3 linked regions of the Homo sapiens genome follow. The protein of the gene in region 1 purifies or fractionates together with the protein of each later gene. This does not show direct contact. Each region holds a gene or a part of one and is shown in the gene's direction. Other genes may lie near its edges.

Region 1 (3,755 bases):
TTTAAGGTAAACATACAGGAGAGGCTGAGGTAGGAGGATTGCTCCAGCCTAGTAGTTTGAGGCTGCAGTGAGCCATTGTACTCTATCCTGGGTGACAGACTGAGACCTTGTCTCTAAAAATAAAAAAACAAAAATAAACATACAGATCAGGGCTTGTTATGGTGAACCCTAAAAGACCATAAACTCTTTCTATTATGTTGGATTTTTTGTTTTTTGGTGAACATGGCCTGAATAATGAGGACCTAAATAACTTTTTTGTTACATAAAGAGATTTATTCTAATGATATGGTTATATTAGGATTAGATTTGTGAAGAGTAAGAATGGAACCTTTTTTGTAGGCAAATATTTTTTTGCCTTTGTAAAGCTCCTTGCTAACCCTTCCTAAATGTTAGCACTAATCCTTGTGCCTTTTTCCCCTGGTATTTCTACTACCTACTTCTTTTATAGGCAGGTTGGTCTCCTCTTCATATTGCGGCTTCTGCTGGCCGGGATGAGATTGTAAAAGCCCTTCTGGGAAAAGGTGCTCAAGTGAATGCTGTCAATCAAAATGGCTGTACTCCCTTACATTATGCAGCTTCGAAAAACAGGCATGAGGTATGGTTCCATCCTAGGCTACTTCTGTTGAGTTCTAAACGTGTATACAAACACAGATAGATTTCTGCATTGTTTTCTTCTTTCTTCTCCATCTTTCCAGATCGCTGTCATGTTACTGGAAGGCGGGGCTAATCCAGATGCTAAGGACCATTATGAGGCTACAGCAATGCACCGGGCAGCAGCCAAGGGTAACTTGAAGATGATTCATATCCTTCTGTACTACAAAGCATCCACAAACATCCAAGACACTGAGGGTAACACTCCTCTGTAAGTGACAAGTAGCAGTCATTTGTATTCTACCTGACATTAGCCTTCTTGCAATAATTCTTATACATCATTTCTTTTTTTATTCTGCTTATAAATGCAATACGTGTTAATGGCAAAAATGTTAAATTGCACAAAATATAAAGATAAAAATTGCCTATTATCTTGCCACTCAGAAATAACTACTGATCACATTCTTGTGTATTTCCTCCTGGTCTTTTATATTCAAATGTATATATTTTATACATACATATTTTTTAGCAAAATTGGGGTCATACTGTGTATGTAGTTTTAGCTCTTGTTCTTTTCACCTCATAGTATAAGCATATATTAAATATGTTTAAAACCTTTTTAATGGGTATATAAAATTCTGTATAGATGTGCCATAATTTAATCATTCCTCTATTACTGTATATTTAAACTTTTATGAGTTTTTCACTATTATAAATAATGGTACATTGAGCCAGGCATAATGGCTCATGTCTGTAATCCCAGCACTTTGTAAAGCCAAGGCGGGAGGATCACTTGAGGCCAGGAGTTCAAGACCAGCCTGGGCAACACAGCAAGACCCCCCGTCTCTAGAAAAAATTAAAAACTTAGCTAGGCATGGTGGCATGCACCTGTAGTACTAACTACTCGGGAGGTTGAGGTGGGAGGATTGCTTGAACCCAGGAGCTCCAGGTTACAGTGAGCTGTGATCACACCACTGCACTCCAGCCTGGGGAACAGAGCAAGACCTTGTCTCTAAAATAGTTGACCAACTTTGTACAGAAAACTTTTGGCCACATTTCTGATGATTACCTTCTTATAGACTCCTAGAAGTGGAATTGCTGCGTCAACAAATACACACATTTTAAGACTTGCTATATGTTGCCAAATTGCTTCCAGAGGAGTTGTATCATTTTACCCTCCCAACAGCAGTGTAAGAGTGCCTATTACCCCCTCACCAACACTAAATTATCCTTTTGTTATGTGAAAATGATATTTCATAGAGGTAATTTATATTTTTATTATCAGTGAATTTGAACTTTTTTTAATGTCCATAGGTAATTACATTTCTTATCTAATTGTAACTTTTTGTGTCCCTTTCTCTGTTTCCTTTTGGGGAATTAATTTATTTTCACTGGGTTTTAAGTGCTCTTGATTTGGCATGGTAAAATATTAATTTTCTGCAATGTTAGTTGAAAATATTTTTCCTAGTTTATCTTTTCATTTTGTTCATAATTTCTTTTACATAAGAGAAGTTTTAAAATTTCTACGTAGTCAAGCCCATTCATCTTTCCTCATGACTAGAAAGCTCTTCCTTACCCTGAAATTAGTTAAATATTCACCCGTCTTTTATTATAGGTTATTTTAACGTTTCATTGGTTTTGATTGAGGGTTAGTGTTATTGTTTTGCATTTAACTCTTAAAATCCATCTGTAATTGAATTATGTGTATGATCTGAAGCTGGCCTTTACCTTGATATTTTTCCACGGTACTTGGCCACTTTTCTTCTGTGTTGAATGGTGACTTTTTCTTGAACCAGAAGTTCTGTGAGTCTTCTTTTTAGTCCAGAGTGAGGTTCAGCCTTTTCCAATTTGACTTTAAGCCAACTTTTAAAAAGTATTATTTTCTTAACTCTTAGTTTTTAAAATCTTTCCTGCATTCTAAGAGACCCTGTTTAGAAAGACCTGTATGCCCTACCTCTTTTCTCCATAAATAGAAAGGCAGGATGGCCTAGAGGAAATCTAGGAGTCAGACAAGATAGAGTACTGGGACGAACATAGGATTTATGAATAGCTAGATGATGTTCACCCAATTCAGACTCTACCACTTACTAACAATATTAAATACTTGTATTAAACAATTTATAAAAGTTACTTAATCTTCCTTGAATCTTAATTTCCTCATCTGTAATATAAGGGTAATAATTCCTTCCTCACTAGATTATTGTGAGGTTTAAGTAAAGCAACATGTAAAGTGCCTCCTAATACCCTCCTGGCAAACTCTTAAGTGCATGGCAAAAGTTGTTACCCTCTTCCACTCAGTCTACTGCCAAGACATGTCAGCATAGGTAGGAACTTTAACCTCTGTCACCATTTCAACTGTAAAATGATGATAATAATACTTTGCTAACTTATAAGATAGATATATGGACTAAATGAGATAAAATCTTTTAAACTGCTTTTTCAAACTTTAAGCTGCACGAATTACTATTAACAGTTTATGAACTGAGGCTTTTCTAAATTCTAACCCTGAATTATTACATGTAGTGTTTGAGGTAAACAACTACTTATCTCTGTAAAATGAGAAAGTTGTTCCTTAGGCTAGCATTTAGATCCCTTCTTCTATTGTAAGTAGAACCAGAATTATGATTTACGATCTGGTATTACAAGGCTTTTTTTGTAGAATTTTAACTTACAGTCTCCCTATGCAAACTGATGTTTCTTTCCTGATTAAATAACTTTCCAATGTTACCATTTCTTAATCATATGCACTTCAGACTACCTAGCAAGAAATCCTAACCATTACATAGAATTGGTAGTGATTAATTGGTCTCTGGTGGTCCCTGATTTCAGACACTTAGCCTGTGATGAGGAGAGAGTGGAAGAAGCAAAACTGCTGGTGTCCCAAGGAGCAAGTATTTACATTGAGAATAAAGAAGAAAAGACACCCCTGCAAGTGGCCAAAGGTGGCCTGGGTTTAATACTCAAGAGAATGGTGGAAGGTTAAACAGCTTGGATTTATTCTTACTTTGTATGTTGTGTTGTTGTCCCCAGTGTCCTACAAACTAATGTATTTGTGCACAAGACATCATCTATGAATGATGAAGTTTTCTCACCTTCAAAGTCTTATAAACATGTTGACTCTTGTTCCTGCTGAGTTACTTGTTCGAAGCTTACAGCTTGTTTTC
Region 2 (3,755 bases), on another chromosome or scaffold:
CAAAATTGCTAAAAGTAGATTTTAAATGTTCTAACCACAAAGTAATGCTAAGCATGTGAGGTGATGGATATGTTGATTTGCCTGATTTAATCATTCTTCAATATATACATGTATCATAATTTAACCCATAAATATACAATTTATTTGTCAATTTAAAATAGATTTTAAAAATTATAACATTTTGATTAAAATTTTAATGTTGACAGCAGAAGTACTTTGGAATTTTTTTTTTTTTTTTTTTTTTGAGACAGAGTCTTGCTCTGTCACCCAGGCTGGAGTGCAGTGGCGAGATTATAAGCTCACTGCAACCCCCACCTCCCGGATTCAAGCGATTCTCCTGCCTCAGCCTCCCCAGTAGGTGGGACTACAGGCATGTGCCACCACGCTCAGCTAATTTTTTGTATTTTTAGTAGAGACGGGGTTTCACTGTGTTTCGATCTCCTGACCCTGTGATCTGCCCGCCTCAGCCTCCCAAAGTGCTGGGATTACAGGTGTGAGCCACCACACCTGGCCAAGTACTTTGGAATTTTAAATGAAAATTCTATTTAGGATTTAGCTTTCATTTTGGAAAATTTACTTGCCAAACGATTATATTCTTAAAAGGATTTTAAAAATTTGTTTCACATAGGCCGGGTGCGGTGGCTCCTGCCTGTAATCCCAGCACTTTGGGAGGCTGAAGTGGCAGGATCACCTGAGCCCAAGAGTTCAAGACCAGCCTGCGCAACACAGAGAGACCCCGTCTCTGAAAAACAAACAGACAAACAAAAAACTTAGCTGTGCGTGATGGCACATGCCTGTCATCCCAGCTACTTGGGAGGCTGAGGTGGGAAAATCGCTTAGGTCTGGGAGGTCAAGGTTGCAGTGAGCTGTGATCTCGCCACACTCCAGCCTAGGTGACAGAGTGATTGCCTGTCTCAAAACAAATTTTTTTCTACCTTACCATCTAATTAAGACTTCTTTTGTCATTCTTAGGTACGGGAAAAACACTCTTGGCACGAGCCGTTGCTAGCCAGCTGGACTGCAATTTCTTAAAGGTAAAGGGAAGATTATTTTGTACTTATTGAAATTTAATTTTACTTGAATTATCTTATATTTACCTTACTGTTTTTCCTTTAATCAGGTTGTATCTAGTTCTATTGTAGACAAGTACATTGGTGAAAGTGCTCGTTTGATCAGAGAAATGTTTAATTATGCTAGAGATCATCAACCATGCATCATTTTTATGGATGAAATAGATGCTATTGGTAAGAATAACACCCTTGTTGAAAGTTTTAGGACTTTTTTTTAAATGTAAAAGAACCTTTTTCCCTCTCTTAATCTGTAATTGTGACTTGTATGAAGTAGATACCACAATGAATCAGATGTTAGTTTAACCAATTTTAATAAATAACCTTTCATGGCCGGGTGTGGTGGCTCATGCCTGTAATCCCAGCACTTTGAGAGGCCAAGGTGGGCAGATCACCAGGTCAGGAGATCGAGACCATCTGGCCAACATGGTGAAACCCTGTCTCTACTAAAAATACAAAAATTAGCTGGATGTGGTGGCACATGCCTGTAATCCCAGCTACTGAGGAGGCTGAGGCACGAGAATCGCTTGAACCCAGGAGACGTAGGTTGCAGTGAGCCGAGATCACACCACTGCACTCCAGCCTGGCGACAGAGCGAGACTCCGTCTCAATAAATAACCTTTCACTTTAACAAAATGAGAAATGTTACACCAAAATCAAGTCTAACTTTGTCAGCATAATTCTTGCTCTTTAATTTTCATCTTAATGTTTTAAGCCACAGACTGTTATGTTCTGTTTTCTTAAATGATGGTTGTAGAGGAAAAGAGTAATGCATATAAATTTCCAAATCTACTATCTTAGGTGGTCGTCGGTTTTCTGAGGGTACTTCAGCTGACAGAGAGATTCAGAGAACGTTAATGGAGGTAATATTTGGTAAAGGGGGTTTATAAAGAAACCAATGTTTATTAAATGAAGAACTGAACATTGCATATTTGATAGTCAAAATATATAGAACATTTTAAATGAAATATGAAATTTGAAAATATTGTCAGGAACAAACATGTTTCTCTATCACAAACTCTAAGAAAATGACTACTGGAAAATAAGGCTATCTGCCAAATTCCATTTGGTATACACCTGTACTATTCTGTGTTTTTTTGAGTAGATCAGTCATTCATATATTTAAATTCTTATGAATGTGATCTTGCGGTAGTTTTATGAAGACATTTTTTGTAATGGTCATATTAAGACTGTTGGCAATAAATGAGCTATAATTATGTATGAAGCTGCTCTAAAAATTATTTTTTTCTCTCACTTTATTGCTGAGACTGAGGCAACTAAAATAGTTTTGATAATTGAAGAGGATAGATGACAGAATGAAAGAATGCACATAAAGCCTTCCTCCAGTTTTACCTTTCCCCACTCCAAATTCTGTGAAAGTGATATCAAGAGTCCAAATACATTTTCCACTTCAAATAGAAACTAGGTAGCATGGGTAATGCAGTGTCAAATTCTTTCTCCTTAGAAGTATTTGAAAAATCTTTTTTCATAAATTATACAGATCCGCTCAGAAGATAACATAGCATTTGGAAATTATAAAATCTCTTAGAAACCTTAAATTGAGATATTTTTAAATAACACAAATACTCATTTTATTCAAGTAACTAATATATCATCAACTAACACATTGTCAGACTAGCTATATTTTAGAGAGTTTGTTAAATGCAGTAAGGTTTTTCATTTATTCAAGAAAACTTTAGAAATTGAGGACAATATTTTTTATGTCTTTTAGTATTTCTGTGTACAGTAGAATTATTTGAAAAAATAGGCCAGGCATGGTGGCTTCTGCCTGTAATCCCAGCACTTTGGGAGGCCCAGCTGGGCAGATCATGAGGTCTGAGCATTGAGACCAGCCTGACCAACGTAGCGAAACACCATCTCTAGTAAAGATACAAAAATTAGCTGGGCGTGGTGGCGTGTGCCTGTAATCCCAGTTACTCAGGAGGCTGAGGCAGGAGAATTGCTTGAACCCAGGAGGTGAGGTTGCAGTGGGCTGAGATCGCCCCATTGCACTCCAGCCTGGGTGACAGAGCGAGAGTCTGTCTCCAAAAAAAAAAAAAAAAAAAAAAGCAGTCCCAGCTACTCAGGAGGTTGAGGTGGGAGGACTGGTCGAGCCCAGGAGGTGAAGGTTGCAGTGAGCGATGATCAGGCCACAGTACTCCAGCCTGGGTGACAGAGTGAAACTCTGTCTCAAAAAAAAAAAAAAAAAAAAAAAAAAAAAATTATCAGTTTATTATCAAATTTGTAGAAAAATCTTTGTATCCATTTATCCTAATATAAATGTTATGTCTGACATATCATAAGCACTTTATATATTGGATTTTATTATTAGCTTTTCCTTTAAAAAATAATTGATGAAATTTTGGACATTGGAAATTAGATCCACATAGTTTAATTTCATAATTCTTGACATGATGGAAGCCTTCAGATTTATTAAAACTACCTGGTAGCTATAGAAAGATACATAGCTATTAAAAGGTACATAATCTAGCTTAGAACTTTGAGGCTAGAAAGTATATCCCTTTATATAAGAGAGAGAAAAAGAATTCTATCAAATGACCATTCTGAAGATAGAACATATCTATCTGTAGACAATACATTTCATGGCATTAGACATATAAAAGGTGTGTGCTATTTTTTTTAATGGTTAGAATTTTTGTAAAATCTGATTCTTAATATTCTTAGTTA
Region 3 (3,755 bases), on another chromosome or scaffold:
AGGCAATAAGGAAATCCAGGAACTCATTGCTGTGTTGTTTTTTAAGTCCTGAGGTCCTTAAGTGGTCCACCACCTTCTTTCCATCATTCCAAGTCTTACTATGCTTGTGGTGTCAATGACTTTTCAGTTGTAAACAGAAGGACCTAGGAGCAATGGGACTACTCTTTCTTGGCCAAAACCAGAAGTCATGTCCTTTTTTCAAATGGGGAGGCTAACCCTTTTAATCAATTATCAGTGAAAGCAGCAGCAGCATATATGTAAATAAATATATATATATGTGTGTATATATATGTGTATATATATGTATATATGTGTATATATGTGTATATATGTATATATATGTGTGTATATATGTATATATATGTGTATATATGTATATATATGTGTATATATGTGTATATATGTGTGTATATATATATGTATATATATGTGTGTATATATATATGTGTATATATATGTGTGTATATATATATATGGGTCTTGCTCCACTGCCCAGGCTGGAGTGCAGTGGAGCAATCATGGCTTACTGTAGCCTTGAACTCCAGGGCTCAAGCAATCCTCCCACCTCAGCCTCCTGAGTAGCTGGGATTACAGGCACGAGCCACCATACCTAAATTAAATTTTTTGTACAGACAGAGTCATGCTGTGTCACCCAGGCTGGTCTTAAACTCCTGCGCTCAAGAGATTCTCCTGCCTCAGCCTCCCAAAGTGCTGGAATTACAGGTGTGTACCACTGCACCTGGCCAAGGCAGTGATTTTCAAACTGAATTAGCTTAGGTGTCAACTTTTTTTTCCTCCAAAGTTCTTGTTAAGGTGTCTACTTAATTTTTATTTTTTATTTATTTATTTATTTTTTGAGACGGAGTCTCCTCTGTTGAAGGCTGGAGTGCAGTGGCGTGATCTCGGGTCACTGCAACCTACGCCTCCCAGGTTCGAGCGATTCTCCTGCCTCAGCCTCCTGTTTAGCTGGGATTACAGGCATGTGTCACCACGCCTGGCTATTTTGTATTTTTAGTAAAGACAGGGTTTCATCATGTTAGCTAGGCTGGTCTTGAACTGCTGAGCTCAGGCAATCCACCTGCCTCGGCCTCCCAAAGTGCTGGGATTACAGGTGTGAGCCACCACGCCCGACCTCTTAATTTTTCTTTTTAAAAAAGAGTTTTGAAGACAAAATAAAAAACTTGAACATGATTTCTCTAGCACACTCCACTAAAAATTAAATCCAGTACTTGTTTTTCCATGCCTGTCTTTCACAGCTAGACTTTGATTCATTGGGAAGCTGGGACTCTATTTCTGTTTTTCTAGCACTTGAACATGGCCAGCATGTGGTACCTGTTCAGAACATGTTTGTGAAGGGATGGAGTCATTTATGCAGCTCCATCTTCTCTGCCCTTGTAGTTCCTTTACTCCATCCTCCATCTTAGGGAGTTTTTTTCTCTTGCTAGGTATCCTGGATACAGCCATCGTTGATCGGGGGAGGAATGTGGTGTCTGCTTCTCGAGATGGGACAGCACGACTTTGGGATTGTGGGCGCTCAGCCTGCTTGGGAGTCCTTGCAGATTGTGGTTCTTCTATCAATGGAGTGGCGGTGGGTGCTGCTGACAACTCCATAAACCTTGGCTCCCCTGAGCAGATGCCCAGTAAGTTGATAATGATATGTAGCATTGTTTTATTTTCTTAGGCCCCCTTCAGTGATTGCCTTAGTTTCTCCTTTTCTTCCTCATCCTTTTCTGCTCTGTGCCTGGTATTTCTGTTTTCACCATACGATTAATATTTACTCTGTACCTACTATGTTTCTATTACTTTGGAATCTACAAAGGAAGTATATGTCATAGCACTGCGTTTCAGTAAGTACAATCTAATGTAGAAGATGAGATAAATGCCTATAAAGCAGGGGTGTCCGATCTTTTGGCTTCCCTGGGCCACATTGGAAGACTTGTCTTGGGCCACACATAAAATACACAACATTGATGATAGCTGAGCTAAAAATAAATAAATCTCATAATATTTTAAGAAAGTTTATGAATTTGTGTTGGGCCTCATTCAGAGCCACCCTGGGCTGCAGGTTGGACAAGCTTGCTTTAAAACATTTAGAGAACAGTAACATTTGGCTGAAATAATTAGTGATTCTTTTTATTTATTTTATTCTTTTAGCGATAGAGTCCTGCTGTTTTGCCCAGGCTGGCATTGAACTCCTGGGCTCAAGTGATGCTCCCACCACAGCCTCCCTAATAGCTGGGACTACAGGCCTGCACCACCATGCCTGGCAAATTAGCAAGTCCTAATGCAAATATAATAGGTTTTCAGAGGGACGGAGTGTTCCCGGTTAGTATAGATAGGAAAGATGTCACAAAAGAAGTTGGCTTGAACCTTTAGAGGATAAGTTGAAGTTGAACAGACAGTAATTGTAAGGATAGGACAATGGGAGCTAGGGCAAGGGGTAGGTGTAGGGGCAGTTTGCATTATAGCTTGGACGTGAAACTAAGTGTTATATAAAAAGATATGTTTGACTGGGCTAGAAAGTTGAATTAAGAGGGGTAGTAGTAGGAAATGGGTTGAATAGCTGTGGTGAGAGACTAATAAAGGTCCTAATAAGGCAACTTTCCTTCTTATTTTCCCATAATAATAGTTGCATCTCTGTTCCATAGGACAATGTTTTTTCTACTGTTGTCTTAGCCCCTCACATTTTAAAAAATAGCCCTTATTTTTTAGGGCCATTTTAGGCTCACAGCAAAATTTAGCAGAAAGTACAGGGGACCAGGTGCAGTGGCTCACGCCTGTAATCCCAGCACTTTGGGAGGCCGAGGCGGGCGATTCACAAGGTCAGGAGCTCGAAACCAGTCTGGCCAACATAGTGAAACCCCATCTCTACTAAAAATACAAAAAATTAGTTGGGTGTGGTAGTGTGTGCATGTAATCCCAGCTACTCGGGAGGCTAAGGCAGGAGAATCGTGTGAACCTGGGAGGAGGAAGTTGCAGTGAGCTGAGATCGCTCCATTGCACTCCAGCCCAGGCGACAGTGTGAGACTCTGTCTCAAAAAAAAAAAAAAAAAAAAAAGTACAGGGAGTTCTTATATACCTTTTGCCTTACCCACTCACACATAGCCCTCCTCACTATCAATATCCCCCACCAGAGTGGTACATTTATTACAGCTGATGAACCTACGTGACACATTATTGTCACCCAAAGTTCAGAGTTTACATTAGGGCTTACTCTTGGTGTTATATATCCTATAGGGTCTGACAAGTGTACAGTGACATGTATTTACCATTGCAGTATCATACATAGTAGTTTCTTAGCCCTAATAATCCTCTGTACTCTGTTCAAGCAGTTCTCCTGCCTCTCACCCTCTCGAGTAGCTAGGACTCTAGGCATGCACCACTACACCTAGCTACTTTTTTTTATTTTTGTAGAGACAGGGTCTCACTATGTTGCCCAGGCTGGTGTTGAACTCATGGCCTCAAGTGATTCTCCCATCTTAGCCTCCCAAAGTGCTAGGATTACAAGCATGAGCCACAGCTCCTGGCCCTAAAGTAATTTAAATGAGAATATTTTTTCTTGTTTTCTGTAATTTTTCATTTCCCATTTACTCTTCAACCCATTCTAGGATGGTTTGTGCCCAAGTACTTGACTGAAATGGCTGTTGTTAAAGTCACCAGTGACCTTCCTTTTTTTTTTTTTTTTTTTGAGATGGAGTCTCACTCTGTTGCCCAGGCTGGAGTGCAGTGGTGCGATCTCTTGGCTCACTGCAGCC

The links.
Region 2: the proteins of PSMD10 (region 1) and PSMC6 purify together in Homo sapiens (co-immunoprecipitation; 7 studies listed by BioGRID and IntAct, with this or other methods). This does not show direct contact.
Region 3: the proteins of PSMD10 (region 1) and PAAF1 purify together in Homo sapiens (co-immunoprecipitation; 7 studies listed by BioGRID and IntAct, with this or other methods). This does not show direct contact.

Annotation. Positions count from the first base shown.
Region 1 is NC_000023.11:108,084,793-108,088,547, reverse strand, and holds part of PSMD10 (26S proteasome non-ATPase regulatory subunit 10), read left to right. Parts: intron 1-448; coding exon 449-595; intron 596-695; coding exon 696-862; intron 863-3,420; coding exon 3,421-3,574; 3' UTR 3,575-3,755. UniProt on the Homo sapiens protein: Acts as a chaperone during the assembly of the 26S proteasome, specifically of the PA700/19S regulatory complex (RC).
Region 2 is NC_000014.9:52,717,109-52,720,863, forward strand, and holds part of PSMC6 (26S proteasome regulatory subunit 10B), read left to right. Parts: intron 1-972; coding exon 973-1,034; intron 1,035-1,120; coding exon 1,121-1,244; intron 1,245-1,868; coding exon 1,869-1,930; intron 1,931-3,752; coding exon 3,753-3,755. UniProt on the Homo sapiens protein: Component of the 26S proteasome, a multiprotein complex involved in the ATP-dependent degradation of ubiquitinated proteins.
Region 3 is NC_000011.10:73,907,954-73,911,708, forward strand, and holds part of PAAF1 (proteasomal ATPase-associated factor 1), read left to right. Parts: intron 1-1,445; coding exon 1,446-1,640; intron 1,641-3,755. UniProt on the Homo sapiens protein: Inhibits proteasome 26S assembly and proteolytic activity by impairing the association of the 19S regulatory complex with the 20S core.